Regions from separate parts of the Homo sapiens genome. Here region 2 is linked to region 1. The links come from fine-mapping of genetic effects on gene expression. A gene starts in region 1. The other region holds a variant in brackets. All regions are shown on one strand. Distances are between the middles of the regions.

The links.
Region 2: its variant is fine-mapped to the expression of BCL11A in lung (TOPMed, PIP 0.95). The same link has a PIP of 0.9 or more in nasal epithelium.

The regions. Positions count from the first base shown.
Region 1 is chr2:60,547,230-60,562,526 of GRCh38, reverse strand. BCL11A (BCL11 transcription factor A) reads left to right here and starts at 8,873. Exons shown (of 4, transcript NM_022893.4): 1 at 8,873-9,311. The coding sequence starts at 9,257. RefSeq lists enhancers at 5,009-5,158, 6,381-6,989, 7,564-7,613, 11,440-12,212, 12,543-12,592 and 1 more and silencers at 7,234-7,363, 8,304-8,393, 9,803-10,162, 10,683-10,742, 10,803-11,112 and 1 more.
Region 2 is chr2:60,520,612-60,535,908 of GRCh38, reverse strand. The region is part of intron 2 of BCL11A (BCL11 transcription factor A); the gene reads left to right. Among named protein-coding and RNA genes, the nearest start is that of BCL11A, 25 kb to the left of the region's middle. RefSeq lists enhancers at 1-1,640, 3,519-4,078 and a silencer at 5,099-5,168. The variant C/T (reference allele first, on the strand shown) is at 7,281.

The DNA of each region.
Region 1 (15,297 bases):
CCAACATAGTGAAACCCCCTCTCTACTAAAAAAATACAAAAATTAGCCTGGCATAGTGGTGGGCACCTGTAATCCCAGCTACTCAGGAGGTTGAGGGAGGGAGAATTGCTTGAACCTGGAGGCAGAAGTTGCAGTGAGCCAAGATTGTGCCACTGCATTCCAGAGGTGAAAGAGCGAGACTCCGACTCAAAAAAAAAAAAAAGGCACATTCACAAATACATGCTAGGAATAGTCCATAATATTGCCTACAAAACAAGTGGTAGCACAGAAAGCTCATTTCTCAAAAGTAACTAGTTAAGCCATTTGAAAACATTATAAAAACTGTGATAGAGATAGATGATCACAGATATCTATGACCAGACCTCATTATTTACCATTCTCATTTATGGGAAATCAAGTTTTTCTCCAGAAAGTACAAATCTGGTGTCAGAGTGACCAGAGCTGTGTTGCCTCACATAGATCCTCGCTATAGGTTTAGAACCGCTCAAATTAGTAATATGAAGCTAGGGCTATACAAAATAGGATAATAGTGTGCATTTGTATGGCTTTGGCATGTGTGACTGGTGAACTTTATGTGACATGCTTGTGCCTGTGTATGTGTGTCTTACCGCCTTAAAAAACAAAACAAAACAAAACCAATCATCCAAAAGCAGGGACCACATCTTATGTTTGCACAGTGCAGTGCTCCATAAAGAAGGAAAGAATAACAATTCTTAGGACCAGATTCTTCATTTTATAGGAATCTGGAGGTTCAGATAACTGAACTTGTGCAAGGATTTTTTTTTTTTAAGAGAAAGAGAAAACAGGCAAATTGTGTGCAACTGGGAATGGGAGAATAGAGAGATTTGTTTATTCTCTACTAAGCTGCCAAAGAAAGATGACAGAGGGATAGGTATTTTCTCCTAGAAAAGTTCCCTTTGCTGAATTTGACAAGAAAAAACCAAAAAAGACTATTGACTATCACACACAAAAAAAGTCTTAATTTCTAGAGAAGGGACCAGAATAGTCTGGGCTGTGCAGTGCTCTCTGGGAATGACTGGCATTCAGCTGGAGTGGTTATGGGGTTAGGCAATTATGGGGTTTATGAGACACTGGTAGAGAAGGAACTTGAGCCTGGTGACATGTTTTGATGACTGCTTCCCTTTTGTCACTCATTGAATTCCAGAGGAGACCAACTAAAGCTATTGTGAAGTGAGAACGATCAAAGCCTGTGGTCCTCAGTGGCCTAATTTGGTGGTCTGATCCCAGTCAGAGGGAATAGAGGAAAGGAACTGCTCTTCTGAAAGTGAAAAGATTTCTGAATGCAGATGTGGTTGCTGCATAGCTCTTGGTGGGCCTTTCTGTGTGAAGTCAGTGACCTTAGGGTCTGCCAACAACATCCAGCCAAGGTCACATTTTGGTGGAGGTGCCATGAGCTGCATGCATTTAAAAACTTCACTTTAACTTGTCCGCCACCTGATGTTTATGGAGTGGCTTTTCTAAAGCAACAAGATTTGGAGAAACAAAGTGTTAGAGCTTCTAACCTTACCCCATCTTTCATCCTATTTCTACTGCCCTCTGGTGGACATGTTAATTAGAGAAACTGCCACTCCCCACCCCATCAGCACTACCTTCTCCATCACCATCACCACCAGTATCATCATCACCACCACCGCCACCTCTATCGCCACCATCATCATCATTACCACCACCATCCTTGTTTTCCTCATGCATATACTCAGCATCGGCCACATCATCACCCATAAACATTAGTTTCATATTATGGTGGTGGTATACCAGGTTAATAGTACATATTTCAAAACTCTGGTCCACCGGATTATACAAAGTAAATTCTTCATCAATCTGTCAACAGTCAAAGTCAAGCAGAGAAATACATGGTGTTTGTGTACAGTCCTTGGGTAACTCAGGATGACTGCACCATGCTATTGCCTTCCAAACAAACCAAGTGATGCCAGGAAAGCTGTACCTTTTATGAAATAAGATGTGAATACTAACTCTTATTTTTACCACACAGTTGGTAGACAGGATTAAGATGATCTGAGGTGCTTTATTTTTCCTTTCTGGTAAGTTCATACTTTTTCATCAGAAGGTAGCACAGAATGCATACCTCTGTGTATATGTATGAGGTCGCAACATTCCTTGGCATATAGTCTTGATTTTTAAGTTGTTTCTTTCTGTGTGTGCGCCTATATATATGTAGGAACACACACACCCACACATACATACTCCAGGATAAAATAATAAAAACTTATAAAATCGCAAAGAGTACTTGTCCAAATAAAGGACTAACTGCCTATAAAATTTCCTTTCAGGCAGTGAAGTCATAGCTGGAAGTTGGCAATAAGACCATCTGAAACTACTAAAAACATTCTGAAATGTTCTGGAGGAGAGAGAGGGAGAGAGAGAGAAACAGAAGAGATAGAGAGAGAGAGAAACAGGAGAGAGAGAGAGAGAGAGAGAAAGAGGAGAGAGAGAGATCCAAAAGCTTCCTCAGCTGAGTTATTCTGCCTTTTATAAAACAAGTTCACATCTGGACTGATAACTTGAATTCTACCCAGTGCCATTTAAATAGCCCAAGTTATAAACCTCTTAAACTTGGGGTTTATAATAGAAACACTGACAGACCCTTAACTATAGTGCCTCTATAGTAATGAAAGCACAACTATTTCATTATAGCAGTGTCTGGCAGGGCTGCTATAATTAAGAGTCTGTCAGCGTTTCCATTATAAACCCAAATTTTAAGAGGTTTTTAACTCACATTGTTTTAAATCACATTGGGCTGAAGCTGGCTGTACAAAATGTCAGACCAGATGTGTGTGTGTGTGTGTGTGTGTTGCTTTTTTTTTTATTTACGAGAGAGAGGGAAAGAGAGAGGCATATAGGTGAAGGTTGTTTTTAAGATTGGGTTTGAAAAACACGTATTAAAAAATTATTCCCTTGCTAAAGGTAAAAGATGCATGGGGTAGGGAAGCATAGAGAATCAAGTTTGAAATACCTTTTATTTTTGGTTGTTTTGATTGTATTTTTTTTCCTTTAAAAGTAGTCTCATTTGAGAAAGCAGTTTTGTACGTATCCAAAAGCAATGTTAAAAAAAAAAAGAAATCATTTGATACCAGCTTATTGATACTGGCTTATTTGGAAGATATTTGATAATGTATGCTGCTGGAGACGATGGAAATATCTTGTATTGTTACTTGTTCAGCTGCTCTGATATTCGAGATAATCTTTTCTGAGCTCACCATCCTTGGTGGGAATCACTTTTATGTTTAAACACACTCTTGGAATAGGGTTGCCTGATCAAAGCCTTATTAGTTTTGGGGGAAAATGAATAGAATTTGGATGGTTATGTTGGTTTCATGTATGTGGTGATAGGATTTATTAGTTTATTATTTATCAAATTATTATTTATCAGATAACTTTATTAATTTATTATTTATCAAAGACCATTTATTGGACATCTACTGTGTGCTGATTATTGCATTAGGAACTCTCTAGTGCAGTACATTCATTGGACTGGCAGCATTGCCCAGCACCTCTGTGTCTTTGATGTCAATATTAGGAAGCTAAACTGAGCATTTCATTCAGTAGCGTTCTAACTAGAACTCTTTGTCTCTTCCAAGGGGCCCCTTACTTATGTGGTAAGACTACTGCTCCCTCTTCCCCATACATTATTGACTTAGCACACAGCAGCCTCATCTAGAGGAAAGTATAGACTTAGAGCAGGTTCAGCTCGCTCCTTCCTTCCTCCCTCCCTCCCTTCCTCCCTCCTTTCTTTCTTTCTTCCTTCCTTCCTTCCTTCCTCCCTCCCTCCCTCCCTCCCTCCTTCCTTCCTTTCTTCCTTCTTTCCTTTTCCTTTTTCTTTGGATAGGTTCATTCAGGTGTTTGAAGCGCTGACTGCTAGCTAGCTAAAGGCCCAGGGAGCCTGGAGAGAAAGATGCCAGACTAATGGTTCTCCCAGGAGCCTCCTTGAGAGATGTCTGTGCCTTTGTAGAAGGTATAGATACTGTCCTCCAGGGACCTCCCAACCTGTGGGTCACACTGGGAGTAGAGGAGGAAAAAGAAGCTCATCCTCTTCCACAAGCAACTCCCTAACATTTTTATTATTATTTTTTTGAGACAGGCTGTTGCCCGGGCTGGAGTGCAGTGATGTGATCTTGGCTCACTGCAACCTCTGTCCCCCAGGTTCAAGCGATTCTTGTGCCTCAGCCTCCCAAGTAGGTGGGACTACAAGCATGCGCCACCATGCTCAGCAATTTTTTGTATTTTTAGTAGAGATGGGGTTTCACATTGTTGGCCAGGCTGGTCTTGAACTCCTGACCTCAAGTGATCCTCCCACCTCGGCTTCCCAAAGTGCTGGGATTACAGGTGTGAGCCACCACCCCCAGCCATTCCCAACATTTTAAAATTCATTTTTCCTTTGTCTTAACAACAGCCTAGCACTTCCATCATTGAGACCCAAAATACAAAACCTATGCCAAGCATAGAATCCAAACCTAAGTTTTATTTTTATGAAGATGACTGCCTGTTCTCTATTTTGTGACCTGCCAATTAGGAAAAACAAAAAATAAAAATTAAAAGAAAAGAAATAAAAAGAAGAAAAAAGGCTAAAGTAAAAATCAAGAAGGAAATGATTGTATTTTTAATCATTCATTCAGTCATTCACTTATTTATCTTTGAGTCTATGAAGGTGTTTCCCCCTAAAGGCAGACAGTGAATATTTTATTTTAATCTTGTAGTTTCCATCCTGACAGACCTTTTAACCCTTCATCTTCCAGCTCAGCCCGAGTTCCTCGCGCCAGGCGATCCTCGGTCCGAGGGCTGGGACTGTATTAAGTCTCCCTCTTCGAGCTGTTTGTTGACCACATTCACGTTCAGAGCCCTTGAGCTAAAAGCACTTTACACCATAAAATAAAAGCACTGTCTTTTTTTTTTTCTAAAAGGTTACGTCTGGAGGCCACGCGGCTCATACTTCATACCGAAAACTACTGAAAGGACTATGAAATCCTGTATGATTTACACTCTCTCACTGCATTAGGGTATAGATCTACTCAACTCTAAAAATACGGTGGGTTTCTAACCGACGTGAATATATGTGCATTATTTCAGAAAGTCTGTTAGAAAACTTGTCAACACATTATAAAGCATAAACTAGGACTTGGCTATTAAGTACGGAGATCAGAGGCAGAATATATACTGCAGGAAGTCCTGGGGCGTCTCCTCCGCGGGCAAGATAAAAAGGGGGAGGAGGGAAGGGGAGGGGTCGTCTGCTGGCCTGGAGTTTACACGCAGTGTCGTCACCAAAGGTTTGGGAAAGAGCCCACGGAACGTAATTACCCTTTCAATGGGAGCAGCAACAGCTCTACAGCCCCAAACGAAGTTAACTGAACGGCCAGAAAATAATTTTAACGTTGTCATAATTTATTACTTTCTAAAAGCCACTTCTGGAAAGGTAAATATACTTATTGTGTATCCAAGTGTGCGCATTTAAAGTGACCTTTCACCCCCTCTACAAAACCACCTGCATCATTAATCAATACTTACGTAATATTTTAAAATCTCTTAAAACGACACATCTTTCTTTAAACACACATACAAACCCTCCCCTCCCCCACTTTCGGGCTCTTTAGCGAGCATCCAGCAGTGCTGAGGGAGGGGTTGTCGCCCTAGGGGAGGGCACCAGGGGCCGGGGAGGGGGGTCGACGACCAGGAGGGATCAAATGCCGACACACAGCCGTGGTTTTCTGGACTGGGTGAAATCTGGCTGGGGGAGGGGCGGGAGCGGAGGGCACTTCCCATTTCACCCTGGGCATATTATGATGGTGAAATTAAATATATGTCGGGGAATCGTCGCTGCTTACCTCTCCTTTGGCACCCAGGGAAAGCAGCTGCAAAACTGGCTTTTTAATGTATGTTTTAAGATGTGGTTTAGGAAGGAACCCCCTGGAATCTGAAACAAGTGCAATAACATAGCAGACCTACTTGTAACTAAGTGCTTAATTTCCTATGTTTTTTTTTAAAAAGGAAAATCAATAAAATGTTGCCAGTTATTTATTGGAAATAGCCACAGATAGCAGCCCTGATAGGGTGCCATCGTCAGAGCGCACACAATTGTGTAATGAATTGTAATTCAGAAGACTGTTAAATGTGAACCACAGAACCTTTCAGAGGTAATAAAGTCATTACTTTTTACACTACAGCCAACCCCGAAAAGCTTTATACACACCATTATATATAAATCATACATATATATATATTTCCACAACACTCACTCGCTCATTTATATATCTTCTCTATAGATGGACTTTTATGGACGGGTGGGAACAATATTCAAATCTGAAAAGCTTGGTTCTGAAAGAATCTGGCTCACTATTGTTACCTGAAGGGGCTTTTCTTTTATTTATTTATTTTTCAAAGGCCTCCCAGTTGCACTTTCTTCTTCCCTCTCTTCACCTTCCCTCCAACCGTCCCCCACGTCGTCCTCCCCCGCCACCCCCCAAGAAGACATTCTTTTGGTGACTCCAAGGCTGGTTTAACAAGACAAAAAGCAGACTGTGGTGGAATAGAGATGCTGACCTGCTCTGAAGAACTCAGTGAAAAGGGGAAATGGTGTCACACACAAGCTACAGAGCTTAACTTCTAGTGAATCCTCCCGCTTCTTAAACAGAATTTGAGGTCTCCCTCCCACAAACTGGAGGGAAACAACAACAAACAACAAACCACATTGACACAATCCCAGTACAGCCCACATCTCTCTCAATGTTGAGCATCAAAACCTCCTTTTCTTCCTTAGAGGGGTCCGAAGCTCCGCCGAGCTAGGCAAGCCAGTCATTTTCTAACACAGTAGACTTGAAACTTTACTAAGACGAAACAGGAATAAACAGCCGCTTGCCGGCAGGGCTGCGGGATGGGTGAGCGCGTGCAAGCCCGGGGCCCTCGCTTAAAACAATAAAGCCCCCCCACCGGGTGGGTGAGTTTACGGAAGCGACACCCTTTAGACTGAAGAGGGGGATGAGAAGACGGGGGTTGTGGAACCGCTCCGAGGAGAGGGAAGGAGGGCTCCTCGCTCTGCAGACACACTCACACATATCCACCTGCAGCTCAGGGTCTCGCGGGCCATGGCGACCCGTCTCCACCCTGCACCCTCCGCACCTCCCTTGGACCTGAGTCCATTCTCCTCTCCCCCCAACTCCTTCCAGATTTGGAATCGGACTGCGATCTCCCCGGCGGCGGCGGCGGCGGCTGCAGAGTGGTGCTGGCAGGCAGGGAGGCTGGGAGGCGGGAGGCGCCAGGGGACTTTACAGGCACGTTTCTGAATAAACTTTCCAATCGCAGGGGGTGCTGTTGCTGTACATTTTACGTAAAACTGAAAGTATCCCACGCCAGAGTGAAGCCCGCTTTTTGACAGCGGCAGCACGCGCGTGTGTGTGCGTGTGTGCATTAAAGAGACAGGGTTTTATTTCCAACAGGTCTTCCCTAATTTCCAGGGAACGTCTGCAGAAAGGCGAGAGGGGGCTGCTGGCTCCTGGGTGTGCGCCTTGGCCGGCGGCGCCTGGGGAGCGCGGCGGTGACCCGAGGCGGTCATCTCACCACCGTGGTCTCCCCGCTGCTCCTGCGAGCCTGTCGCTCTCTCTCCATTCCCATTTTCTCTTTCCCTGGGTAACAGCACAGGAACAGTTGTGCTCTGCCCGTAAGAAACATTTTCTTCCCATCCCTCTGTGCTTTTGCAGTTGCTCTGGAGTGGGAGGGGGTGTGTCCCTCCCAGGGACCCGGCTCGGGGACCTCCCGCGGCGCCGTGAGCACATTCCCAGGGACTGGGACTCCCGGGACTGCCCGCGCTTTGTCCTCGGCCTCTCAGAGAGGTGGACGCCTCGGTGCCTCTCTTGCCCAGGCCCCCGGCGCTCCCCTCCGGGGGCCAGACTCTGGCTCCTCGTTCTTTATTCCTCGGGCTCTCTTTCTGCGACCCTTAGGAGCCGGGGACTCGGCGCTTTCAGTTGCATTCAGACCCAGTCGCTTGGCGGGGCGCTCAGATTCCCGGTCCCTGGCTCGGCCTTGGGGGCGCCCTCGGGCCCCGGCCTGCGCCGCCTGCCTCTCCCCGGTCCCCTCTTTCCAGGCCGCGCGGGCTCCTGGAGACTTGGGCGCTGCCCTTCCGGACCCGCAGCCCTCCAAACTTAGGCTGGATTCCGCGTTGCCGTGCGCTCCCTCCCACCTCCCCTCGCCCGCTGCGGAGCTGTAACTTGGAGGCTCAGCTCTCAACTTCGGGTGATTTTTCTTTGCTGTCCTCTCCTCGGGCAAAGTTTCCCGAGCGCAGCCGCGGGCTCGGGGCTTTTACTTCGGCCCCTGGCGTCCACACGCGGGGAGCGAGCGCGGCGGCGGCGGGGAGGGGAAGTGGGTGTGCGTACGGAGGAGGGTGTCCGGGAGCAACTCTACCTGGCTTCCCTCCGCCCGCGCTTCCCCAGCCCGGGGCTGCAGCCTCCCGGTGCACTCTCGCTCTATTTTTTTCTTTTTTGAATAATCTTTCATTTTAGAGTCCGCGTGTGTGGGGGGGAGCAGGGCGCACGTCTTGCTCCCCCCCACCCTTTCCTCCCACCCCTGCCACCCCTTTCTTCTCTCCCGGCCACGCCACCGCCGCGGCGCTCGCTGCGGCCACTGGTGAGCCCGCGGCCCCAGCGCCCCCTCCCCTCGGCCCGCCCCTCCCCCGGGGGCCGCGTCTGGCGTCCGCGGAGCCCCCCGCCCCGCACCTCCCCCTCCCCGCACTGGCCATTGGCTTGTCCTGGTCTCTTTTTCATGTCCAGCCCCTGATGTGTGTCCATTGGTGTGAGCTTCCCCTTCCCTCCTCCCCTTCTCTCCTGCTCGCCCTGCCCATGTTTTGTGTGTCTCTGTCCATCCAGACTCCTGACGTTCAAGTTCGCAGGGACGTCACGTCCGCACTTGAACTTGCAGCTCAGGGGGGCTTTTGCCATTTTTTTCATCTCTCTCTCTCTCTCTCCCTCTATCTCTCTTCTCTCTCTCTCCCTCTTTTTTTTTTTTTTTTTTTTTTTTTTTTTGCTTAAAAAAAAGCCATGACGGCTCTCCCACAATTCATCTTCCCTGCGCCATCTTTGTATTATTTCTAATTTATTTTGGATGTCAAAAGGCACTGATGAAGATATTTTCTCTGGAGTCTCCTTCTTTCTAACCCGGCTCTCCCGATGTGAACCGAGCCGTCGTCCGCCCGCCGCCGCCGCCGCCGCCGCCGCCGCCCGCCCCGCAGCCCACCATGTCTCGCCGCAAGCAAGGCAAACCCCAGCACTTAAGCAAACGGGAATTCTCGCGTAAGTAACCCAATAATAGTAATAATAATTATTAATAATCACGAGAGCGCGCAGGACTAGAAGCAAAAGCGAGGGGGAGAGAGGGGTGTGTGCATGCATTTTTAAATTTTTCACGAGAAAAACCTCCGAGAGTCGAGGTAAAAGAGATAAAGGGGGAAAAAACCCTCATCCCATCTGGAACCATTGCCGTGTATGCACTTTTGAGACAGCACGCACCTTTTAATTTTATTTAATTTTACAAAAATTTGACTCCTCCTCTTTCCTCCTTTCCGCCGCTTTATTTCTCTTTTCGAAAAGGAATGCAATGATTCCACTCCCCCCCCGCCCCGCCAGTTTTGCAAAATAATGAACAATGCTAAGGTTGCGAACAACTCACATGCAAACCTGGGGGTGGGAGCTGGTGGGGAAAGGGAGGTTGCTTCCCACTCACCGTAAGAAAATGGGGGGGTAGGGAGGGAGTGAGTACAAGTCTAAAAAACGATTCCCGGGGAGAAAAGAGGTGAGACTGGCTTTTGGACACCAGCGCGCTCACGGTCAAGTGTGCAGCGGGAGGAAAGTAGTCATCCCCACAATAGTGAGAAAGTGGCACTGTGGAAAGGGGCCCCCGGCGCTCCTGAGTCCGCGGAGTCGGGAGAGGGGCCGCGGCGACGGGGAGAGCCGTGGGACCGGGAAGGACGGGAGACGCGGCCGGCACTGCCGCCTTTTGTTCCGGCCAGAGGTGGGTGTTTGTCCCGCTGCCTTTTGTGCCGGCTCCTCGCGCTTGCCCTCCCGCGCCGCCGCCGCCGCCGCCGCCGAAGGGCAGGAGCTAGGGCCGGGGGAGGAGGCGGCCGGGGGCACGCGGGAGAGGGAGGGAGGGAGCCCGGACTGCTGCCTCCTGGGTTGCCGCTGCCCTCCCCTCCCGACCGAACCTCAGAGGCAGCAAGGAGAAGACTGGCACATAAATAAATAAATACATAAAAATAAAATAAATAAAACAAGGCAAGAGAATGTACAATTTCTTGCCCCCAAACCGAAGCCAAACGCTCTGCCAACCCTTTTCTGTGACGGCCTTCTCTTTGACTCCCCCACCAGCCCCCCTGCAAAAATCTCACAATCTCTCATCTAGAAAAAAATTTACAATCACCCTCTTCCCCCAAACCCCTTCAGTTGCAAACTTAGGGCGCCGACGGCACGGAGAGGGAGAGAGGAACTCCCTCCTCTTACTATTTTTTGGAAGATTTTCAAAAAAAGTGGAAGTGGATTTTGATTGGGAAAAATCTCGTGTCTGAATGTTTACAAGCACCGCGTGTGCGGGAGCCTCCTGCCAACAAACAGACAGAGGACCGAGCGCGGCGCGGCAGCCCCGGAGCAGGCGGCGGCGGCGGCCTGGCCTCGCCCGGGCCTTGCCCGACCTCGCCGCGCCCCAGCCCAGCCCCGGATCGCCCACCCGGCGCCCGGCGCCCACCCGCCAGGCACGGCGGCAGGCCACGCAGTGTCTCCGCGCCAGCCTGGCCCGTGGTCCTGGTCCGCCCCCAGCACAATGCCGAGACCTCTTCTCGACCTCCCAGACTGCGAAATCGGCTGGGTGAAACTCGGCTTTGCAAAGCATTTTTATTTTGCAGGGCAACTGTAAAAGCGCGTTCTGCGCCTCCCCTCCCCTCCGCCCTGGGTACTTTCTCAGACGTCTCTTGTCCACAGCTCGGGACCGCGAGGAGGTCACCACGTGCTTTCCCTGCCCACCCCCCACCCCGCCCGGTCTGGTCACCAGTCCCCCTGCGCCCCGAGCACGACTAGGCCAGGTGGCGGGGTTGCCGGGGAAGGGCAGGGGAGAAGTGTGTTTGAGTGTGCATTTTAAGGGCGCTGGATCCTGGGACCCCGAGCACTTCACCCTTTGGGTCTTGCCCTCTTCCCCAGGCCTGGCTTGGTCTGAGGTTCTTGTGAGTCTGTATAAGAGCTGGTGGTGGTGGCTGTCTCCCGCTGACTGCGCCTGGAAAGGCGGGCGGTGGGCACTTAGGAAAGTTTGGCAGCAAGGGAAAGAAAGGCGTGAGGGCCCACATTCCCCCCCTACTCAATTTATGATTCTTACTTTAAATTTTTGATGCAGTTTTAAAGGACCACCTATACTTGGTTCTGTGTTTTTTTAAAGGGGTGGTGGTGGGGGGTGCGCACAGGGAATTTAATTTTTCACTGGGCCCTGGAACTTGTCACACACTTCGGAAGCTCCCCCACCCCGGCACGTTGCGCGGCCCTCCCTCTCCCCACCCCCTCGCATCCCTCCCTCGCCGCTCTCCCCCGCCCCCAACTCCCCCGGCCGCGCCGGATGCGGATCAGACGCGGCGCGCGGCGGTGTGAAGTTACAGCCCGGCCAGGTACCGGCGGGAAGGAAGGGCAGTGTTCGCAGGACTCGGGAAAGTCAGGCCCTTCTTCGGAAGGATGCAGTGGGGGCTCAAAGGACAGACCGGGGCGCGCAGTCCAGGCTGCTCCCTCGTACCCCTCTCCCTCCTGGGTCCATCTTGGGACACTCTAGGCTGGGAGGGTTAGTACCCCCTCCTCCTGTCCCGGGGTTAAAGGGCCAGTTTGGGAGGGGGTGAGGGGGCCACTTCTTTCTGTCCTCATTTTCTGGGTGCTCAGAGGGGGCAGGAGCCATCCCGGTCCTCAGTACCACCCCCCCGCCCCCCGCCTCTGCTATGTGGGCTGAATGAGCCATTCGGTCGCTAGGAGGCAGAACAAGATCAAGAAAGCTCAGCGAACTTGAACCTGTACCAGAGCCTCCCCCACCTCCTGCCCGGCGATTCTCGTCCGGGGAGGAACGAGCTTTGCGAGGGTGGGGGTGGGGGGAAAGAACGGTTAGGCAGAATTCCCTTTCTCTCCCCCATCACCCCGTATGTCTTTGTTCTTCATTTTGACTTTAAAAATGCTTCTGGCCGGGGCCGCGGAGAAGCGACCGGGCGCGCGGCCGACACCCCCGTGCGCGAGCTGAGACCAGCGCGCGCCGGGCTCGGAGCACGGTGCAGTTTTCGCTTTCTTTCGGGGCCGGCATTTTTGGTAGGGAGGAACCGGGAGTGCGCGCTCTAGGGCTTCGGGGCATGGCCGAAGAGGGGGATATGGCAAGTTTGCACTTGGTCTCCAGCCTCACTTCTTCCACCCCCTCACCCCCATGCAAAGCACAGACCTCGGTGGCCTCGGCTGGCTTGCTGGGCGGCTCTGCAGCCCGACACCCCCCCTCTCGCCTCGGAGCTCGGAATCACAACAATAGTAATAGTTATCATCATAATGATGCGGGCAGGCAGCGTCATTAATAATGAATAACCGCAGCCGCCGCCGCGCACACCCAGTGCCCAGAATTGCGGGGGAAATGCATTTGCAGAGATCCCCCAAAGTAAAAAGTGTAAGCTTGTGGACACAGAATGAATCTCAGGACCCGCGCTTGAGGTGTGTGCGGAGATACTGAGACTGCACCAGGTTAACCAGCCGGGTTTTCCAAACCTCACTTCCTTTTTCACCAACTGGCAGGCCCAGGGAACCGTCACCCCGCGGCCGAGCTGGCCGAGCTGGACGGGCATGGAGGCAGCAGTCAGGGCCCCTGGCTGCCCTCCGTCTCCGGGCCCCCGGGCCCCAAGGCCCCGCGGCCGCTGCTGCACGTGTTCGCAGCAAGCGCGGCGGGAGCCTGCAGCCAGCACGCTGCTCGCTTTGTGCCTCAGAGTCCCCGCGCCCAACTTCACTTTCTGCACGGTCCACCCTTGCCGGGGCCCCTGCCCCGGGCCTGTAGCCCCCGGCTTTGCTTTTGTTTCTTTGCTTTTCCTCTCTGAATTTCAGCCTCCGTTTGCTTCTTTACCCTGTTAAGACAATCAAGGAGAAGGACTTGGAAAGCAAACTTGAAGACACATCTCCCTTTCCCCCTCCCCCTCCGCTCCCCGGCAGCTCTCGTTTTGCTCGCTCCTTACCAACATTTCCTATAAGGATTATTTTTTTCCCTTAAATTTATTCTTTTGCAACTACACAGAGAGGAAAGAGATCTCAGTCTGTCACTGAGACATTGAGACGTTCCAGGCTGTCTTGCTGTTTGAACGTAGAAGCATTTTATTTTCTATTTCTTCCTCCCCTCGTAGAGAGAATTCGCGGCTAATTATTATGATTATTTGCCCACTCCCTTCCACTTCAATCGAGGACTCCCTGCTTTGTAGCCGGAGTTTAGGCCGGAGCTTAGAAATGTTGGTATTGTTGGGGCGAAGGAGGATGGAGTTGAATTGAGGGAGGGGGTAAATGGCTGAGGGTTAGGAAGGTTTTTAGGGAAAGGGGAATTTGCATTAAAATGCAGAGAAATTATCAGATGCCCAGAAAGGAAATGTTGATTGCCACTGAGAAAAGATGTCAATGCAAATCAGTAGACTACACCATGAGAATTGTATTTTCATATTTTCTTTGTGTCCCACTTTGTCTGATTTTTAATAATATACCAGCAATGATAAAAACACGTTTTGGTATTTCTCTGAACACCACTAGCCAAATGTTTTGCAAGGAGACCGATGTTAAACGTATTTCATACATTAGAATATAATTCTTGTTAATTAGCAATAATTTACGTTAAGAGCATAGAAAATGTTGAGGTTACAGGTTTTATATCTGTACATTTGATCATCTTGTTATTTTCAAGAACTTTGCCTCCTATAAAATTAATTAGGTGAAATGTGGAGGTGTAATCAGCAACCTCTGAATTACCACTTCATTTCCCGGTTTTGATTGTAAATCAGTTCAGTCACTACATTTAGAAGACTTTAACCAAGTCTGTTTTGAACCACATTACCTTTAACTATTTGATACCTAGGAGAATATTTCCTTTTGCACCTAAATAATATTCCCACTTTTAGAAATGTGTCAGACCTTGGGAACAAAAAAAAAAAAAAAAGAATCTTAACGGTGGAAATAAAAAATTTTTTTTTTTGCAAAGGTTCTATGTACTAGTAAGTTTGATAAAATATTTTCCTAAGTCTTCCTTCAGTCTGTAAACCTCAGAACTTGTAGCTAATGCTAAACAAAAAAGCCACATTTATCAATGTGTACTTAAAATCCTTAATTCAGACAACAGGAATATTTTGAGAATGAGTTCCCTATTCCTCACTTGGTCAAAATGGAAGCAAATGTAAGAGAAGAATGACATTAAGGCACAATGCAGAGGCACTTCTGTTTGTCTTCTTTTATTTGAAAAGTATGCATATGTATTCTGTATTTATCTTTTGGCCAGTATGTTGGGCAAAGAAACATAAGTGCTTACTTTACTGTCTTTATTAGTAGGAATATAACCTTCATATTCCTGTGGTGACCTTATGTTAAATTAGGAGGAGTACCAGAGGCTAGAAATTATGAGATGTCCTACTTGAGCACAGGTGCAGCTAGGCAGGGCTCTCTCAATATTATTTCACCTAGCACATCTGGGAGTTACTCCAGATCTTCCCCCTCAATATTCAGCCTGGGTAGGGTTGAAATAAATTTAACCTGAGTTCACTGGATTTTTGCACTTTATCAAAATCTGTTCCAATATTCTACACTCAAATTAAAATCTATTTTTTGATTCTCTGTGGCTTTAAGTTCATTAAATGTAAAATTGGCAGCTTGCTAAAGAAGGTCAGACTGATTAACTGTTTAAGACTTGTACATTTTCTGCTTCAGTTTTATTAACTGGCAGCATCCTGGATGTTTTGTATTTTGTGATTTTTTTTTTTTTTTTGATAGAGCAAGCATAAGATTTCACAAGCAGAGACTTACCAACTCTCTTTTCCCCTTTGGAAGCTTAAAAAATGATAGAAGCTGGTAAAGTAGATGCTGGAGTATTTTAGTACAAAGTTAAAAAAAAAAGCAAACAGGAAAGAAAGACATGTCTACCTTGTTATACCATCCGCTGGTGATTATGTGTGCAGAAATAGTCTCATAATGAAGCATTTTGGAGCTCATTCAGAAAATTAGTCCACTTTGACAACATTAGGCGAAGTATTTCAAGTCTAAAGAAAGG
Region 2 (15,297 bases), 27 kb after region 1:
ATTGGAAAGCCTGCAAATCCAGGTTCCCACGATACTCTCTAATAACTGGGGTGGGATGGTGGTGGTGGGTGGACACCACAACTTTCTGAATGTCAGCTGATGTCTGCATGACCCGTTCACCATGGATTAAATGCGGCTGGTGCCGAATGGAGGAAATCAGAAAGGCAAATCTCAAGCAACAGGATTTGCACTCCTCAGAAGTAAACCAGACCTTGCTCCTCTCCCTCCTGTGCTTCTCCTTTCTTGCTGGTTTCCCTTTGGAAGCAGAAACTTCTAAAATTAATGCCACTCCAAGCCAATGAAAAAGCTGTTTTTATACCACAGTGGATGTTTACACAGGAGAGACAACTTGAGGGGGAAAAGGCTTTTTGGAAGGGTGGAGGGACTCGTGTTAATCTGTTCTGTTGGAGGACTATGCAGTATTGCCTATGAGCGACTCTGGGCTGTTTTTGATAAATTACCATGTTTAGAGATAGGTTTGGCTCTTAAGGGCTTAGTTTTATGAACAAAGTCCGTGACGATGTTTGCAGCCTCTGTTTGTATCTTAGCCCCTTTGGCTTGACTAGAAGCTCTATGTTTAGTTTAAGCTCAGTCTGGAAGATATTACAATTTTGCATTAAAAAAATGAGGAAATCATAGGAAGAAAAACCCTTTGCTTTTTGGATGAATCTTACTGATAATTTGCTAAAGCTCATTTGAATTTTAAGCACTTCTTTAATCTTCAAAGGCTAAATTGCTTTATGAATATGCATGGTGTGGGCAGACTTCAGTTCATTACCTAGTTGTAAATTCTAATGACCATTAGGTCCTTCCAGTAATTGCGAATTGTTTTGCATTTTTGATTGGCCTATTAACATGTACATTCGGTGCACATCAGGCTGGCCTGTCAGCCTGCTGAAGGAGAAAAAAAAGGTGAAAATTGTTTATAGCACCAAGATTCTTAGATTTTCAATCTTGCAAAATTGATGATGTAAAAAAATTAAAGCAGTGTTTTTTCTTCTCAAGATTAAAAGTTCACCAAGAGATTTGACATATTTAATTTACATGATGACTTTGCACTCCTTCATTAATGTAATTTGCATATGAAGCTGTTGTTAATCACTTTTGATCATGTTTTGTGTATTAGCTGCCTCAGTGGCTCTCCTCCTCAGATGCCCCAGTAGAAAGGAGCAAAATGATGCATCTTCTTGCCAAGTTTCCTTTAGTGAATTGAGGAATTAGAAGTCTAACCTTGAGTAATTACATATGTTTTATCCGTTTTCTTTTAACGTTAAGTACAGTTTGTGAACGTGTTGGCTGGAAATCGTTCTCATTTGGGGAGAAGACTGTAAAATTTAAGTATATGATTGAGGCACTTCCAGATACATAGAGAAATATGTATTGCCTGTTTCTGTTCCCCACGAACATTGCAGGGCAGTTTTATTGTTAGCAGTTTGATGGCAGGAAGCCTTGGCTATTATAGTGTATTAAGACATCAGGTTCCTCCTTTGGAGGAGGGAAGGCTACAGAACTACAAACCTTTCTAACAATGCTTTAGGTTTCTTCTTTAGATAGATGGCTGGCACCTAAAGGACTTGGGCCTGGGTTTGGCTGACTCTTTTATCTTTTAGATCAAGTAAGTTTTCTCATTCAGCTGCTGCTCTGAGCTACAATGTGTCCTCCCCTCATCACCAAAGTATATCCTGGTCTCCAGGCTCCCTGGGCTCCCAGTGTCTCCCTCAAGGTACACGAGTGCCCTGGTGGTGAAAACAAGGTGCTAACTAACGGTTTCCGATTTTTGAGAGCCTGTGATTTTGGTGTTTGCCTTTGCTGTTGAATAACCTGTGCTGTATTATTGATGTTCATCTTTGGTTTATGAGTTTATCACTGGTTAACAAGCAGAATCAGAACAGTGTAACTGATATTCTGATTAAAACGAATGTTTAATGAAAGAAAATAAATTGTGATGGAAAATGAACAGTGTGTAAGAAACATAACTATAATTTTAACCTCCGAGGGACCTAGCACTGCCCTACCGTGACTTCCATCCATACCATGCTAAAAGCATGCTTCAGTTTAAAGTTGTTAATATTCAGCTGGGAAACAGTATCCAGAACACAAATAAATTATTAAGTGCATGAACTTTTTAGGCAGTAAGATGAACTGATGGGGTCCATCTGTGAGATCCAGGGGCTTTTTATTTGTGTGTGTCGAGCGATTCTGCCCTCTCCGACTTCACAGCCTTTGGTCTCCGGCCAACTGCATGCATAATTGATTCCACACGCACTATCATTTTCTTGATGTAATTGCTTTACTAAGATATGATGAAATCTAATGGATAATTTGCTATTTGAAAATGGTCAAAAAAAATCTTCATACTTTATGTGGGGCTGAGTGGGCAGTGGAGAAAGGGGTATTCAGCTGACCCGGTATTTAAGAAAACAAAACAAGCAACACTAACTTATGCATGCTGCTTCAGTCGCGTTGGCTGTGGATAGGAAGGTCTTTGTGACATATGGAAGCCAGTGTATAAATCTCTCTCCTTCTATCTTGCATCACCCCCTTCATTCCTTCTCTCTTTCTCTCCTCTCTCTCTCCCCCAAACTTTACAAGAAAGGGATCCTAACAAGGTAAAAAGTAAACAATTTAGTCATCACAAGCCTTATTATTCAGTCTATCCAGGAGTTTTGCCATGTCGGTTTATTTAACTTCCAGGAATGTAAACACTGACACAGCCCTAGAAGCAGCAAGAAAGATTACAGTATTAGAGTTAAAAACGTGAGCATGGAGGAGCTGTGCTTTATACTCTGCTATAATAACACTTTACATTGAAACATAATGGTAAGTCAAAAGTGACTGGAAACTTCTGCTTATATGGAGTACAAATTTCATTCTAATAGATTGGCATAATCTAGTGTACCCAGGGTAGATTGTTATATAATGGAGAAACTGTATAAATGTCAAGTACACAAATAATTCTACAGGAAGTAAATAAAAAGTATTAGAATTTCTTAAGTCACCATTAAATTTTGGTGGTGGGACAATCTCATTAGCTCCTTCAAAATCATGTGGCTTTGCATAAGTCTTTTGAAAATGTATTTTCAGGGAATTTACAGATGGTGAAACATTGTTTTAATCCAAACCAGTTAATGCTTTAAATCTACCTTTAAAAAAATTGTACTGTTTTTCGAAGTACTTAAAGGGAGTGGAGGGGTAGAAAGCATATAAGTGAATCCATCTCACTGTGGCAAACTGTTTTTCAAGTAAAGTCATAATAATGAACAACACATGATCTGAAATTTGATCAGCAAACATATCCTTATGCCAAGGAATTTTCTTTTTTTCTTTCCTTTTTTTTCTTTTTCGCCATTCACATACCAAGGTTCTGTAAATCAGTAAACCAGGCAGAGAGTAACTATTGTAAGGGGGAAACCAAATCATAATACCCAGAGTGGCCCAGAAGCTGTCTTTCTGAAGAAACATTAACGCCACCACCACCAAAAAAAGAAAAACAAAAAAACAAAAAACAAAGCAAAACAAAACAAAACCTTTTTAAAAAACTGGAAATGACAGAATAGTTTTAAAAGGAAAAAAAAAAAAACCCAAAAACCAAAAAGCAACAACCACCTTCTGACGCTCAAAACTTCAAACTATTAATAGACCACCAGTGAGATAGACTGTCTTTGTGCCTTGAAATGCAAAATGAGGGAAATAATTAGCAGAGGAACAAAATTCTCAAAATTTGAAGAACTTCTGTGATTACTGGGGGTACAGTGAAAAGAAAATGCAAATTTCTTCCTGATCTTAATTAGATTCGATTGTGCGGTGGGTGTGTTGGATTTGGGGGGAGGGGCAGAGGCAGGGAGTGCTGGGGTGAGGCGTGAGGCTGAGTGTTGTGGAGACAGGTTAGCAGGGGCCCGGCGGTGTGGCAGGAACAAAGGCAGCTTCCAACGCTGGTGCAGGATTCCGAGCCTTAACCCAGATGCTCATGGTGCCCTAGTCTTGAGTTCTTCATTTAGGTGGGCTTATTTCCCACTGGGTCTGGGGGATTTCATTTGTCCTTTGAGGGGCAGGGTGGACACTGACAGAACAGCTGCGGCCGGCAGAGAGGGTGGTTAGGAAGAGGGAAGCAGCCTGTGGGTAACTTCCCGACCACATGGAAAGGCTGAATAAGACGTTATGGACCCTGCCTTGGGTACTGGGGTCAGCGTCTCCTGGTGGTGTCTGCACAGGGCCCCCCAATGCCAGGGCACTGCCAAAACACGCTCTTGAGTTTAATGGTAGTGGTTGGTCTGAGTCCTGCCAAAGTGTATGGAGCAAGTTTCATTGGCTGGACTTTCCCCTTGCATGAAATAATAAAAGCCCTGGCCAAGGCTTATGAATCTATTTTTGTTTCATTAATATTATTTATTATGTATTTTATTAATATTTTTTGGAGGGACCTTGCTCTCATTTGACCATTTGTAGTTATAATTAATGCATTCCGTACTGGTTGTAAAAAGTGTGCTTGCATTTAATTGCAAGTCAGGGTAAATTAATGGATATGATTTAAAACAAAACTCACTTAAAATATTCTTGCAGAACGCAAAGGAGGGGGCAGTCCCAGTATTTAATTTATTTTCTGGTTTAGTGTTAGTGTGAGAGGGTCGAAAAGATTCTGTGGGTCCAACGGGATTTGTGTCTGTGTGTGCAGGACCGTCGGGCAACACAGAGGGAGGAGAAAAACCTGGACCGGAGTAGGGTAGCCAGGAGCTCTTTTTTTTTTTTTCTCTAATTTCTGAGGTTGCCAGGAGGGGCTTAAGCAAAGTGGTCAAGTCCATCTGCTCCGGAGAAGGTGGTAAAGAAAAGAGGTTAGTGGCAAGAGGGAAGGAGCACAAAGGGAAAATTGTACATTGGGAGCGTTACTCTCCCTGGCCATGGTGTAGCCAGACTGGTTTAGCAGACAGAATGATAGATTGTTTTGTCAGGGGTCCCAGGGTGCGCCCTGAACTTGAAGCACTTTGTTTATCTTGAATAGAAAGGGAAAAGCGCAGACATAATCGATGTCTAGTTTTTAGGAGCTCGAAAGAGGTAGGAGAACAGAGAAGACTCAGGAGGGGTAGTGGGAGGTGGGGGAGGTGCAGGCCCTGGTTGTGGTTGTCCATTAACAGATGAACTTGGCCGAGGGCCAGGCTTTAGATGAGAGCGTGTCAGGGCCCCAGTGCAGCCAAGCCTTTTCAGTGTTTTTTTTTTCCTTTTTCTTTCTTTCTTTTTTAAATACCTGCTGACTGTACATCAAATGCTCCCTGGTCTTTTGGCTAAAGGCAAAAAAATAAAAAATAAAAAAAAAAAGAGACGCACAGCTCAATTTTTTCCCTCCTCTGAACCAGTTGAGGCCAGTCTTTTGGCTACATATGCGGGTTCTATCATCTTTCCTGGCTTGCCGTTGGGAAAAAAAGTTGTGATAACGCCAGTAACCCGAGGGCCAGATGGGAAGGGTTTGGTTGTGTTCAGGCGACCAGGTGTGAGAGCTCGTGGTGCAGTGGGGTGGGGCGTGGCCGGCGTGCCTGCGTGTGCAGGTAAGAAATCAGTGGAAACTCTTTTTTTTTTTTTTTTTTAAATGGCTGAAGTTTAACTTGTTGGAAGGGCCTGTGAATTAAGCTGTCGGTGGCTGAGAACGATAATATGCAAGGAAGGCTCAAGGAAGGCTCAAGAAAGGCCAGGGGTGGGGAAAAGGTGCTCTTGTTAGAGGCGCAGCCTTTCCTGGGCAGGACCCAGGACCGATGGCAAACCCATGTGTTTGGGCTTGTTTTGTTCTCGATTTTCTTATCTTCTTGGCCTCTTCCTGTGTTTTTTAGTTTATTGTGACATTATGCATTCATATATGAATGTTGGCAAGCAGGAGTCATCATCCCAATAACTTCCTGACATTTTTAGCTCTTTTAATGTGCAGTCTTTGCCCTCCTGCCACAAGTGGCGAAGTAATTGAATTTCCCTGTTACTAACTGGCAGGAGGCATGTTCTAGTTCCCACCAGAGGAGCTGCTGGGGCTAAAGCTGGGTTCATAGAATCCCACCTAGGGGACACCAGGGCTTTCAAGTGGTTTGGGGACCTGTCTGAAATGATATTCACACAATAAAAAATATTTTTCCCATCATAGACTTGAAAAGGCACCATTGTGCACATCTATATAAAATGTGATAAAATCACATTTACTTCCCCTGGCTAGGCCTCATAAGGGAGGCAGGATTTCCTTCTCCTTTTCTAGTAGCAAATAAAAACTGGGAAAATTTGGGGGCCTCTGGGTTTATCCCATGGATACCTGCCCCCGCTCCCGCCCGCCAACTCAGCCAAGCCCTTAGAGGCAGTCTTCTCTCCCACCTAGATGTCTTTGTAACCTGAGCTGGTAAGAAAGGGAGGAGGGACAGAAAGAGGGGAAATATGCCCTTGACATATGATGTATCTTCTTTCTTTTCTTCTTCTCTTTGATTACACGAAATAAAATGGTTTAGGCTGAGGGTAAAGAAGTAATACCATTTCTAGTTGTGCAACCTTGGGCAGATTTCATTCCCTAAGCCTCCGCTTCCTCAATCTGTAAAGTGGGGAGAATCACGGGGCTTGCCTCATAGGGCCTTTGAGCATCCTATGAGAGCATGTGGGGGCGCTGGGCTCAGTGCTGGGCACATGGTAAAACATGTCACAAAAGCTCATTACTATTACGGTTATGACTCATGGCTTGGAACTGTGTGCTCCTGGGGTCTCAAAGTAGTTCCCCCATTATGGGGTGAGCAGGTTGGGATGAGAGAAGAGCAGGGCAGGTGGGGGTCTAAAGAGCTCAGGGTCTCATTATGTTTCTGGTGGCAGCTCCCTCGTGGGTGGGAGTCCCCTCTCCCCATAGACGTGTGTTGCCTTACGAGAGGCTTGTGCCTGCCTGGGTGTGTGACACAGTTACTCTGGGTTCAGATTTCTATGTTACTGCTAGCTGGTTGGGAGAGTCTGAGGGAATCATTTCACCTCTCTGTGAAATGGAGATAACTCAAGGTCCCTTACCTCATAGAGTCCATGTGAGAAGTAAATGAGGGAAAGCACAGACATTACTCGCTCCGGGGGCTGCACCTCCAGAATTGCTGTTGTCATTATTACCATGTGTCTGACACATTGATATTCCATCCCACAACAACCTCGGAAAGGAAACACTCCCATTAGCCTCATTTGGTAGAGGAGGAAATTGGGGTTCATCAAGGGTTAAATGACTTCCCTGAGGGTCCACAGTTGTTCAATCCTTTGGCCTGCGGCCGCCACCCTCTGCTACCTCTTCAGTA[C/T]GTTTGCAGCTTTCTTCAGCGGTGCCAGGCAACAACTGGGCAGGAAGCTCTGGTGCTGGACAGTTGTCCCTCCCATGGGTTCTGTGGTCAAGTTTTTCAATCTTCTGGGAAAGAGAAGAATGTTCCCCTCCAGTTCTGGGCATATTGAAGGAGCACGGAGCTGTTGGGAAAAGTTGCAATGTAAGGAATCCTGCTTTGCAAGTAGTCATTTCCCCATCTGTCCAGAATGAGCCTGAAATCAAGTGAGGGTCCTGAGAAACAGAGGGAGGAGGTTTTACTGTTTGTGTGTGGCTTGGTCAGGAGACTGCAGTGGGCTGAATGAGAAACTAAGCTCGGACTTTTAAGAAGTGGTGAGGCTTGGCCTGCAGCAGTTCTGTGTGTTGTCTCTGTGGCATTTACTTCTCGGATCGTACCTTCAAAGGCTGGGGAGAATCAGAATTATACAGGGAGGGAGAGACTGAGTGTGAGTGAGTGTGCGTGGCAGTGGTGTTTCTTAGGACGATGGGTTCTGGGGGGTCATAATCTGCTTCGAGGAGGTTTTCATTTCTGGCTGAACAAGGCTGTGGTAAGGCAAGTCCGGAAGGCATGCTGGAAACTTGAGGGAAGTTTTGAATGGAAACTGCAGTCAACAGCTCCATATGATCCGCATGTGGCTTCCCCAGAGGCAAGTTTTCAGCTGCGTGGTGGCCTCTCCCAGTCACTCCACAGGCTGCCCTGACGCTATTAATATTTGCTGAAGCAAGACCTGAGGTTCGTTGCAGATGGATTACACAATGTATTCCAAAACCAAATGTTACTGTTTTCCTGTATTCTCCATCCTTTCAAATTGGCCAGGCTAACATAGACCTCCACTGAGAGAATTTCAGAATCATTTGGTAGTTGAGAAGCGCCTACTTCATGCGGAGGCCCCGTGGGAGGAGTGGAAGAGTTGGCCTCAGCACTGGCGAGTATCGGATGGGAGCTCTGCTCACTTGGTAAGTCCTTCTGCTAGAACCAAGGGAGGCTGTTCAGATCCATCACAAAGAAGTTGTCGGTCACATCCAGGTTGTCTTCTGAGTTTGAGGTGGGATGGAGGTGGCTGCTGAGAATCCATGTGGGTCAAGAGCTCCAAAGCTTCACTTTTACTTCGCACTCTGTCCCGGGGCATGGACGTCCTCAATGGAGGTCATGCAAGCCCTTCCCCCTCACCCCTTCTCTTGGCCCTCTTCATTGTCTCTACATACCCTTGGGTCAAGAGTGTAGTGGTTCTCCCTTGTCACCCTGGAAGAGAAGCTCTTAGTTTTATTTGCTGGGTCTCCTAGACTGAAATGATAAAGCTGAAATGATAAAAGGCGTATCATGGCTTTAGAACCCTTCTTATTTCCCTCGCTCGCACCCCCTAGTTTTCCTTCTCTTCCCTTGAAAATCAGTGAAAATCAGGCCACATCTCTGATGATGGCCTTTTGTTTCTTTTTCTTTTTCTGTTTCTGCCTTCGTTAGGTAAGCACAAATTTGATGTCCCAAGAGGCAGGCCGGTGACCCTTCAGGCCAAGTGCCTGGATGTGGCAAAGCTACAATAAATATCGAATGGTGAGAGCAATGGAAATTTAGCAAAGCCATAACCGGGGAGACCTCAGAGGGGCAGTGGACTGGTTAAGAGGCTGTTGGATGAGCCGGGTAGTATTTCTACTTCAACCTGATTGAAATGTCGACTAAAAATCAATGCTGTTGACTAGTGATAATTTACAACGTTCCTGGTGCTAAGTAGTTCCCCGCTTAAGAATGCGTTGGCTGGGCAGAGATTAGCGCAGGGAGTTGTGTGTGTCACAATGAATCAGACGCATTATAGGTCAGCCCTTTATTTGTTTCATCATGACTTTTACACAGTTGTCATGTAATTTATGGCTGCTTTCACGTTGTCAAACATTTTCATTGCATCTTCTTCTTTAACACCCTCCTGACATAGACACACTGCACTTGAAGGCTTGGTATTGTTTCATAATCCGAGAGGAGGCCTATAAACCATCAAATTACACTATCTTTGGGCTAATCTAAATGCGCTGCAGATTAAAATCAGAGCTCATTTGTCCCTGATGCAAATTATTAAGTTCTAATTATAAATACCCATTTAATTACCCGACACATTTTTATTTTGCGGACCCTTTTGAGCACTGCTGTCTGCGATGCAGAGGGGGTGGGGGGAGATGCATAGGAGACAATCTGCAGTAATTAATGTACACTTCCCAAATGGTAAAGGATAAACATATGCTGCTTTGTTTGTCTTATTTATTTATTGATTAGATGTATAGAGACTTTGGCGTGGGCACAATCTGAAGTTGAAATCCTTTTAAAGATGAAAACTATTTAAAAATCTTTTGGGGAAGAAAGAGCAAAATATAGCCAACCAATAGCTTTCTGCTAGAACACATCATCCCAAAATATGGGATTCTGAATTTGATCAAATCACCAGTTTCTGAATTTGATCAAATCTAGATTTTGCAGAAGTTCAGGGTGAGAGAAACCATGCCTGTTTTATATCTAGAAAGTGAAATCATTGTTATAGAAAAAACCTACTGTGGTTAGAAAAAAACCACATTCTTTTTTCCCAGCCCTGCTGCCATCCTCTACCAGAAAATAACAGTATCTGCCTGTAGTATGAAGACCTTCCAATTGAGAGCATTATGATAAACTATTTTTGATTACCAAACACGAATGAAGGAAGAAGATAACATAAAAATTAGTAAAGGCCTTCCAAGTAGACATTTACCCTTCTGTGAAAGCCATGGAGAAATTACCAAGACTGGTTTGGGGGGAGGGCATTTAAGGTCTTTTGGGCATTACAGATTTTCCAGAACCAAACTTTGACTTTTAGTGTTAACAGAGAGACACTGATCTGAAAACCAGGACACCTGGGTTCTGACCCTTATTGTATCATGCTGTGAGATTTTGGGCTCCCTTCACCTGTTAGCATTTGTTTCCTTGTCTTGTAAAGTAGGTAAAATAGATAGTTTGGACTGGGTGGGTCTCTAAGTCCCCATGATGTTCTAGCATAGTATGAACACCACTGACCAGTTTTCTCCCTGCTATTTTTTGGAATCTAGTTGCTGAATGGGGCTCACCTGCAAAGACAGCAGAATATTATTTTCTTGATTTGCCTCAAAGATGGAAGCTATGGTGGAGATTAAGGCTTGGATTCGTGATTCCCCAACAGAAAGCTTAAAGGCATCTTTCAAATTGCTGGAAGCAAAATTGAAGTGCAGTATAATGGAATGGTGATAATTCACAGAAGTTTCCAGCCTTATAAGATTTCTCCATCTTTTAATTGTTGCAAGCTGTTTTTTTTGAAAAACTCCAAAGAATGTAATGTGTATTTTCTCCAAGTTTGCTTTTTTGGGCAAATGTAACTACATCAAAATAGAAGTACGTTTTTGAAAAAGAAATAGTTGAATTCAAACAACCAGGTATTTTAAATTCAATTAACTGACTGAATTCAGTGATATTTTCCTCCTTCCTCCTCCCAAAAGCTGGTTTCTCTGTATGGACATAGCCTACATATGCTGAGTCCCTGGAGTTAGGAATTTTTGCTTGTTAAAGGCATCCGATGCAACATGTTTAGAAGAACTCTCCCTCTGTTAGTGTTGAAGACAGCATAAATTGAGGGAAAATGTTCTTTTTTTATTCATCATGTAGGTAAAAGCATATGGCCTGTTCTGGGACATGCGATCTTTGCAATCCATTTTTTAAACTTGGTGTTTACCATTGGCTTTTAGCACGGATGTTTCTGTTTTCCACACTGTCCAGCAAATACCATTTATATGTGGCATTGAATGAGATATGAAATGTTTTCAGAAGCATGCTGAAAAAGGGCATTCAAAGTTATCCTTTGGATAATGATGATCTAAAACTTTCTTTTATTATCCCATGTGCTCAGAGTAAGGGGCAAATGAATCAGTTGTGAAATATGTGTTCCTTGTAGGACACAGGCACTCTTGAGATCTATAGCTTCAATAAAAAGGTAATTTATTTAAATTACTGCCTCTTTAATTTATAATGTTTTGGGGATTTTTAATAGGCATGCTCTGTAAGGGCACTGGTAATCAGCTGTTTCTGATTTTGCATGCTCTTCTATCTCTGGTAACAAAATAAAATCTTAAAAAACAAGAAAAAAGAAAAAAAAACAAAAACAAAAACAAGGAACATAAAGTTTAGCCCTAACCCAACCCAAAAGCAAATAACAGGCCGAATGAATGGCAGCCCCCCAGAGGCTCTACTTTCCCCTTCCATTATTACCTGAAATAAAAGCATGATAACATTCATGCCAGAGATAGGTGACAAAATTATGTATTCAGACATGAAGTTTAGGATTTCATAGCCCAATGTTCTCTCTTCTCCCCCACCTCTTATTGTGTTGTGCAAATGTATCAGCCGTTGTATTGTTAATGCATGATAGGAAGCTGCCGCTAGGACAGTCTTGGCTCACTAATGCGGTCAGCTGTGTCACAATGTGATATATAGATTATATTTACCATGGCATATTTTGTTTGCGAAATGGGAGCGGATGATAAATGAAGATACCCTCCAGTTTTCACACTAGTTCCTGTGGTCCGGAGTCTCTCAAACAATAAAGCACCCCTGATAATGGAGAGGTATTTATGGGAACATAATTGACTTCAAAGTTTTAGATCTCTGGCTGAAGTTTAAGATGGGATAGTCCATTACATTAATGTCTGTGCTTAAAGCTCCTATTTGGCTTAAATAAATTATTTAGGGTTTACTGCTTAAACCTTGGTCAATTCTTGAACGTTTGGGCTAGTTAAGTAATTTTCCAGTGACTTTCTGTGCCTTGGTGATTCATTTACTTGATTGAGCTCCTGTGTGCTCGTATGATTTCTAAATGTATTTCTCAAGTTTTGCCTGGCAATGAATGATTTTGCTTACTGGAGTCTTGTGTGGTACACCTATAAAAGGCTTATTAACTCTTTTTGAAAAAAAAAAAAATCCCCAAACACATCAACACTGTCATCATAAGATAAAGCATATATACATATGCATCTATATACACACATACATATGTACATACTACATATATACATACGTATATGCATGTATGAATATATATATAGTTGTGTGCCTGTGTGTGTGTAGAAAGGGAGAGAGAGAGAATAGGAAAGTCTTTAGAATTCACCATGATTCCATCAAATCAATATAGAAGTTTTTGAAAGCTATCCATGTAGAAACCACTTTTCATCAAAATCTGACTTAAGCAAATTATCTCCATACTATTTATCTGAAAGTCTGTTGTTCACATAGCGCTGGATTGAGGATCATAGTGGCAAATTTAGGAGCAACAGTCCCAAGCAGGAATCCTGGATGGCAGGCTGTCCTTTGTGCCTCCCCTGAGTTGAGAAGACTGGTGTTTATTCTTTCTCTAGGTTGCAACACGTGTTGCCTTGAAATCTCCCTTCTTTACGGTTCTGCCATGAGTGTATTTTCTGTGACCTGCCTCTGCATCTGGTTAAATGGACTTCAGTAATCTGTACACAGTTACTTCTTACTTATTTTATATCCTGAAAGATATTAAGTCCAACAAGCTTTTACCCACAGAGTCTACAGAGAAAACGGCCAGGCAATTTTTGTTTCAATCTCTGTGTCTCTCTGGAGCACTAGTTCCAGAGGCTGATCAATAGGTTTTATTGTAGACCTCACTGTCTCTAAAAGCATTTTGACCTTATCCTGTCTAAAAATAGTATTTGCTCTTGCCTGCAGAACCTTGACCTGTGAAAACCCATTTGGAACATAACTGACATATCTAGTCAGCTGTATATCCAAGACATGCTCTGTGAATGAATTCTGTGCAGAACCGTCCAGGAGAACACTTTCTTCCAAGACAAATGAATTCCAGTTCTGAACACTGGGAGTGCACCTGCTTGTCGGATGTGGTGATGGGCCACATGGTGGGGAGTGAGGGAGACTCAGGGCCTGTGGGGCAGTCGATGTGGGAGGACTGTCACAGAGACTCTCAGAGGGTGCATTCAGCCCTGAACAGGGCAAAGGACTGCAAGGGGCAGGAGCTTGGGCTGACATGCAAGGTGGCTTTACACAAGGCCCTTTTTAGAGAGTGTGATTCTCTGAAGCTTTTCTTGGCAGCTTCAGTCTTGAACCTCACTGGAAGGGATCCTCCAAAACATGACCCAGATGGAAAGAAGTATTTCTGAGTTTAAAATAACTCCCCTATTTGGTAATACGGGACTTTATTTGTGACTTTATTATTTTTAGGTGTGATAATGGTTTTGCAGTTGTATTTAAAAGAAAAAAAACGAGTTCCTATGTTTAAAAAATACATACAGAGGTGTTTACTGATGAAATGATATGACGTCTGGGATCAACTTAAATAATAAAATGGGCTAGGGAGGCGATAGGGTTACAGAAGACAAGAATGACTGTGAGCTGTGGTGGTTGGAGCTGGAAGATGTGGACTTGGGGACTGATTTATAACATTCTCTCTACTTTTGTAGTATTTGAGATTTTTCCAGAAAATAAAGGTATTGCCTGACTGGTGGAGAGCAGTATGGCCTTGTTTAGTCGGTGTTGTTTCTTCACCAAGGGTTTGGCTCAGAGGTAGCAAGGGGACAAGTGTCCTATGGGCAAGAAAGTACCTGTGAGCTCAAGTCTTGTATCTGGGAAGTTCATTGTGAAGGGGTCATTTAAGGGTCTGTACTGTGCACTGTCCCCCATTCTCCTGGAAGAACAGAGATCCCTTGTCTTTTTCAGTGCATGAGGCAGAGTCAGATGTGGCGTTTGCTTGAGTTTCAGCACAGGTGCCTCTGTGCCTCGTGGTGAGGGTCAGGAAGAAGCAGCTGGGACGTGCTCACGTGGCTGGTAGTGTTATGAAGACAAGGCTTTGGGACCTTTCTTTGGCCATTTGAGCCCTGGCTATTAGAGAAAGATGATTTGCCTGAGAGGAGATTGACCACACTCTCAGAAAGAAGGGGACAAAGAACACGTCAAGGGTTAAGCAGCCTTCCCTTTAAGGGAGGACTGGGGCACAAGATGGAAGATGAAAGGGAGCAGAGTGGCAATTGCAGAGCTGGAAAGGGGAATTTTGTTCTTCTAGATAGCAAAAGCCAGGACTGTCGCTGTGTGACTTGAAAGCTAGGTCACTGGTGGGCTTCGTGCAGCCCGTCACAGGGGAGCCATGGTGGGCCTCGTCTCTGCCGTATCTGCTGCCTGGAAGCTGAGACTGGCCTAACCACATCACACCATTCCCAGACCCAGGCCCAGGCCCAGGCCCGGGTCCCTCTGGTTTTACAAAATGTCCGCTCTCTCTCGCTTCACACAGAGGCTATTATTAGCAAGTGTCACTCAGTTATCTGAGAGTGGCGCTTTTAGCTGCCATCTAAGTGCCTGATACTTGGGTTTACAGCAGATTAAATTAAATTTTAGGCTGGTTTGGCTTCACTGGCAGTAGACAATGGAAGGCAGCTGTTGTAGAAATGTAACCTGGCACCCTCAAGGATTTGTGTGAGTGTGTGTGTGTGTGTGTGTGTGAGTGTGTGTGTGTGTGTGTGTGTGTGTGTGTGTGCTGACCACTAGGCTACACTTCCTTTTCCTTTCCTCTCCATTTCATCCCTTTCCAAAAAGTGTTTAGACAAATAGTTTCCCAGACTTGGTTTTATCATGCTGGGTTGACAAAGGTTGTGTACAGAGCTGGAATAATTTTTTCTTCTTTCTACTGTTGGCACATCAATATCTTTTTTTCTGCAAAGAAGGGGCTAAGCTTGCACGAAAACACCGGTGGGAACCCACTGGAGAAGGGCATGGGTGGTTTTTGGTTCGGTTGGTGGCTGATCTGATGGGTGGTATAGGCAGAATGTCTGGCTGCCCCTTCAGATTCCTGTAGATTCCGTAGGCGACCAACATGGGGTGGGGGTGGGGGACTGTCTGCTCTTTTTGATGCAAATATCTTCACTCTCCTTGGTGCTTCTGTGGTTGTGCCTATGAATTTAGGACCTTATGCCTCATAGTGTTGAGTCAGAGC